Regions from separate parts of the Homo sapiens genome. Here region 2 is linked to region 1. Evidence: fine-mapped expression QTL. A gene starts in region 1. The other region holds a variant in brackets. All regions are shown on one strand. Distances are between the middles of the regions.

Region 1 (2,909 bases):
GCTGCTGGCTGAATAGCCTGTGTGTTGGGGTTCACCCATGGGGATTTTCAAGGAGGCCTGAATCTTCTGATCCATCCAATCTCTCATTTTACACTTGAAGAAACTGAGGCTGAGAAAGGGGAAGTGACTTGGCCAAGGCCACACAGCAAGGTCAAGATCCAAGACTAAAACCAATTGCTTCTCTGTTTTGCTTATTACTACAGCACAGAAATAAAGAAATAGAGAATGGGAGAGGAGAGGTAGGTGTGGGGAGGCGATATGAAAACATGGAACAAGTGCTCTGCTTTTAGAATAACTAGAACTTTGAGCCCAGAAGATTTCTTTTCTTTTAATAAATAAATGTTTTATAATCTTACTTCTGTGGCTGGTGGGAAAAAAAGTCCTTCAAGTCCCCAAGGAATGTTAGGAAAACCTCCATTAAATTCTAGTCTTCAAATCTGAGTCATAATAACTATAATAAACTCTGGGAGTGTTTCCTTAGAGTTTCTCTTTTAGGGTGGAGAGGAGGCAGCAAAAAGAATAGGCAAGTTTTCACAAGAAAAACTTGTAAATAGGCAAGTATAACAAGAAAATGTATAAACCGGGATGGCTTCATAATTAGGCATAGCCTAATTGTGCTTATGTGTCTAGTCAAGAAACTCTATCTAGAGTTCCAGGGGAAGAAGGTGTTGGGGATGAGGGAGTAGGATTGGTTTGAGGGTAGTAGACTATATAAGGCATCATGCTCCTTCCCATGGAGGGGATGTATGATGGTTAATATTAGGTGTCAACTTGATTAGATTGAAGGATGCAAACTATTGTTCCTGGATGTGTCTGTGAGGGTGTTGCCAAAGATATTAACTTTTGAGTCAGTGGACTGGGAGAGGCAGACCCACCCTCAATCTGGGCGGGCACCATCTAATCAGCTGCCAGCACAGCCAGAATAAAAGCACACAGAGGAACATGGAAGGAGTAGACTTGCTGAGTCTTCCAGCCTTCATCATTCTCTCGTGCTGGATACTTCCTGCCCTCGAACAACAGACTCCAAGTTCTTCAGCTTTTGGACTCTTGGATTTACACCAGCAGTTTGCCGGGGGCTCTGGGGCCTTCAGAAGGCTGCACTGTCAGCTTCCCTACTTTTGAGGTTTGGGGACTCGGACTGGCTTCCCTGCTCTTCGGCTTGCAGACAGCCTATTGTGGGACTTCACCTTGTGCTCATGCAAGTCAATACTACTTAATAAGCTCCCCCTCATTTATACATCTATCCTGTTAGTTCTGTCCCTCTAGAGAAACCTGACTAATATAGCATGTGTATGTGCTTTTCCCTTTGCTTGGAATGCTTGTCCCCACTCTGACCCTAAGCACCACCACAACCTTCCTTCCTGGAGCTCAGGCTGTTATCCTCCAGGGCTCTGCTGATTCCCTGGGCACCCCGCACTCTGCTTCACAGCACTCATCACATTTGTCACTTGTGTAATTTGTTGCTTATCCCAGGCTTCCGTATTACATGATAAGCTCCATTAATGACAGTGTTGTCTGCCTTGGTTTTGTTCATGATGAGCACAGTGCCTGGCCCACAGTACCAGCTCACTAAGTATTTAGCAAAGGGCTTTATGAGGTCATCCCTGGCTCCAGCACCTCACAATCTTTATGGTGACTGTTCAGAGGGCAGCTAAGCAGAAAAGAAGTTTTCAACAAGGCTGTTTCTGGCCTGTTTTCCCTCTCAGTACTACATGGCAAGTCACGTCTCCAAACTGAGGAGTGTGCCTGAAGAGTCAGGTCTGGCAGAGAAAGGATTTCTTGCCCTAGGTTTAAACAAGCAATGTCAACATAACTTCCAAAGGCATCGGCTGCTTGGAAGAAGTGAATCCCTTGGGTCATTCCCTTGATTATTGTGAACCCGTGGCTGAGCAGGACAGAAATGTCACACAGGTGGACTGAGAACAAAATGATTTCAGATATGGGAGCCCCAAAGTGGCATCCCAAGGACAAGTGCTCAGAATTGCATGACTTGGTTTTCTGTTGAGCTATTCTGTCTTGGATAATTACAGCATGAGCTCTTGGCCAGTGGTGGGAATTAATTGGTTTTAATTCTCCCGCAAAGATTCTCTTAAGTAAAAGTAAAACATTTGCAAACTGGAGTTCTTTGAGTTATTGGTAACAACTTACTTTGCACCTCATAGCACACTGGTTAATAGCCTCCGCCAAATAACTAATATTTAGGCACTTTGCTAATGTATGCAAAGTGCTTTTAAGTATTATGCTATTAAATCTTCACAACATCACAGGTAGGTATTAGCACCATCTTACCTATTTTATGGATATCCAAACAGAGGTCTTCAAAAGTTAGAAAATCTGCACAGTCACAGAGCCAGTGGAGCCACAGCTGAGGCATGGACAGGCTGCTCTCCTACCACCTGCCAGGCCGCTCTTGCCCAGCTCATGAGGTCCAAAGTTTTCTCAACAAACTGCTTGGTGTCGATGTTGTAACCTGGAGCATTGCCCTGCAGCAGAAAGGCAGGCCTGGACATTCGCATGTCAGCATGGGGCGAAGCTGATAATTTCCAGTTGGGATCCAAGAAAAAGAAAAGCTCTCCACATGCCAACAACATTGTTATGAAGCTCTCTTGACCCAGCTACCCAACAGTGATCTCAAACATTTGGTCTCTCCAGTGTGTGTATGGGGGTGGGGGGCAGCTGGGCGTGTAGCCTTGTACACTTTGCACTTGGAGAGGTAGGGACAGGGGTCTAAATTAAGGGAAACCCTGCCCAGGGGCTGGCTTTGGGAAGCATGCCCAGCAGCCATGTGGAAGTTCACTGCATTACGGTGAATTACACCAGGTGGGGTGAGTACAGGACAAGGAAGTAGAAGTCAGAGCCTGCTTTTCAAAATCACCCTGCAGGCTGTTGTCCCCAGAAGAAGAGATCAA
Region 2 (2,909 bases), 55 kb before region 1:
CGCTTCGCGTCCACATAGTGATTACAGCTGTGCCTAGATTGACCCCGCCTGGCATCACTGCCTTCCCCATTCCAACTCTGAGTACTCTAGGAACTCATTTCGTCCATACTGTGAATGGGGAAACCATCTGTTGCACTGGCCTAACAGTTTCTATGGCCTGCTCCACTCTCAGGCTACTCAGGGTCTCAGAGGGCACTTTCAGTGGCAGTTGGCGCTAGAAATCTCTTAATTAGAAGCCTCTAAACCCAGACGCCCATCTCTGATGTCTGTAACAAGATGGCTCTGAGGTTGAGCCACTTCCCCTGAAACTCCAGCCCCACCACCTTCAGCTGCTGCATTCTACAGTGTCCCCGGGACTAAGGTCCGGTTGTAGATCTCTGGCCTTAACAACCCCCAGCAAAGCCAAGCGGCCTTTACAAACCGTAGTAAACATTTTATTTACAAATTTAAGGCGTCCTAAGTGCCTTTGAGCCACGACCTCTGGGGCGAGTCAGAGAAACAGTTTAGTCAAACACCTCACAGTCGAACCAGCCTGCTTCCGGAGAGAAGTGTTCGGCTGGCTAGCAGGACACTGAGACTCCCCTCTGCTTTGGGCAGTGTCCGCTGCAGCCAGTCGGAGCAGCGTGGGGCGAAGCGTGAATGTCGGGAGGTAGGCTCCACGCTGCGTCTCCTGCCCTACCAAGTCGCCAACATACAGTAAGCACAAAACCCAGCCCATGGTTGGGAGGCTGCACGCAAGGCCCGGATCCCCTCCGCCCTAGTACAGTCTATAAGCAGCCAAGCGCGCCTTGGGCTGGCTCGGGGCTTTTGGGAGCGCTGCTGGCTGTGGGCTGTGTTGCAGGGAGAAGCTCCGAGGCGCCGCCGCCGCCAAGGCTGCTGGCGCAACCCGCACTGGTGCTGCTGCTACTAAGACTGCTGGCGCTGCTGAAGCTGAAACTATTGCCGCCGCCGCCGCTGCTCCCACCACTCCCAGCACTGCTGGCGGTAATGAGGGCGCCAGTGACCGGGGCCTTAATAACTGTTGTTTGGTGCAGAGAACGCTCACTCCCCTCAGTCCGCTCCGTGTCGCTGGGGGCCATGTCCAGGGACTCGGAGTCGCTGCTCTCGCTCTCAGCCTCGCCTTCAGAACGGCTGGGGCTCCTCTCGTCCTGCTCGCCATCCGCAGCCGGGGCTCCACCTGATGGCTTCTCGCCAGCCTCCTTGTCCTTGTCCTTTTGGGCCTGGGCCTCCTTGGAGTGCCGCCACTTCATCCGCCGGTTCTGGAACCACACCTTCACCTGCGCCGCGCCACACCGGGAGACAAGAAGAGACACCGAGATGAGACCCAGGTTTGCTCCTATCCGACTCGCGTGCACCCTCAAGCCACCTCCCTGAGTGAAAAAGCAACGCTTACTTGGCGACTCTACCAAGGACCAGACACTGTGGTAGGCGCAGGAGCCAAGGGGCAGCCCAGGGGAACACAAGAAGCCAGGAATCCTGGCCTAGGGAACCCACTAAGACCGTTTTCAAAATGCAACCCTCAGGCCCCAGGACTAAAATGACCTGAGTGACTGTTGGAAAGGCAGATTCCTGCACCCGACCCCCAACATACTCTCTCTCTACTCTAAATCCATGTAATTTTTTTATGCCAGGACCCCCAT[G/A]AGAATCTGATTAAAGTTATGGACTCCTAGCCCAGAAAAATACACATATGCCCAAGATATTGCTTACAATGTCAAGGGTTTGGTGTGCCAGTGTTAAGAATTCCTGCTCTAAGTTGGCCCTCTCCTCTACTGCCACTACCCAAAGCAATACTTTTTTCAAAAAAGGAAACATGGGAAGCAGAAAGGGAAAGGGGTTTTAAACTGTTAATCACAGTAGGGTGGGGGCATTGTTGGGCTTTCAGTAAGACAGCATTTCTTTGGTGTGTTTGTACGCAAGAGCTGATAAGGACCTTGCCCCTGTTAAGGATAAACAAATTCTCCTGGGGGCTCAGAAAACAATGGAATTAAATGTGTGCAAAATTAAGGAAGGGGATAGAGATGGGGCAGAGAATCTATACAGATATATACGATCCCCTGGGGGACCCAACGCATTCACACAAGTTCCAGCTTCCCTTTTAAAAATAACATCCACAGCTGGTGGAAAACGGCTGGGCTCCTCGTGTGTGTGTGTGTGTGTGTGTGTGTGTGTGTGTGTGTGTGTGTGTGTACTGGGGAGAAGAGTTGTGTAATGGAGGTCAGAAAGAAACAGAGACAGCAATTTGGGGACCAAGGAGCTAAGAAAAAGAAGCCTGCCTCTGGCTTCTGACCTGCTGGGGAAAATCAGCACCCCAGAGCCAGAGCCAGTGCTATGGGGTGCACAAGAGTGACTCTTCCACAGTCAAAGCTCGGGTGGTGGGGGGTGGGGAAGCCCAGTTCTTAAATTTAAGAAAAAGAATAAAATTATTTCAGCCACAATACATTTCCTATTGTCTTGAAAAAATTCAAATAGGCAGAACCTGCTGAAATGCTCTTGGGTATTCTAAGAGAATCATTTTTCTTTCTTTCTTTCCCTCACCTCTCCCCTTCCTTCAGATTTTCTTCAGAGCCTAAGCCTTGTAATGTGTGGCCACTCCAAGCAGACTCCCTGCCCTCCTGGAGCTAACTAATTCCGTTTGAAATTATATTTTCACTTCCTCACAACTGGGGATTTCACAATCCAGCAGAAGCAGCAGGAGGAGGAGGAAGGAGGGAGGGTGAGAGGGAAAAAAACCCAACAACAATCTCTTGCCTTTGGGTTTTTATCTTTTCTGAAATAAACTGCCTCCTACAGCGAATTGCACTACAGTTGAGTGTATCAGTGTTATTTCCAGCGGCCCTTTTGCTTTCTCCGTGGTTCTTTAGCCTGTTGGCCAAAATAAACATGCAGTGCTTGTTGACACACATCTTGGG

What was found. PIP is the estimated chance that this variant, and not a neighbour inherited with it, causes the effect.
Region 2: its variant is the best candidate, but not a certain one, in a credible set for the expression of LINC01352 in esophagus muscle (GTEx, PIP 0.64).

Annotation. Positions count from the first base shown.
Region 1 is chr1:220,827,887-220,830,795 of GRCh38, reverse strand. LINC01352 (long intergenic non-protein coding RNA 1352) reads right to left here and starts at 1,541. Exons shown (of 4, transcript NR_110797.1): 1 at 1,354-1,541; 2 at 1-103.
Region 2 is chr1:220,882,563-220,885,471 of GRCh38, reverse strand. HLX (H2.0 like homeobox) reads right to left here. Exons shown (of 4, transcript NM_021958.4): 4 at 413-1,277. The coding sequence ends at 768. Among named protein-coding and RNA genes, the nearest start is that of HLX-AS1, 3.9 kb to the right of the region's middle. The variant G/A (reference allele first, on the strand shown) is at 1,641.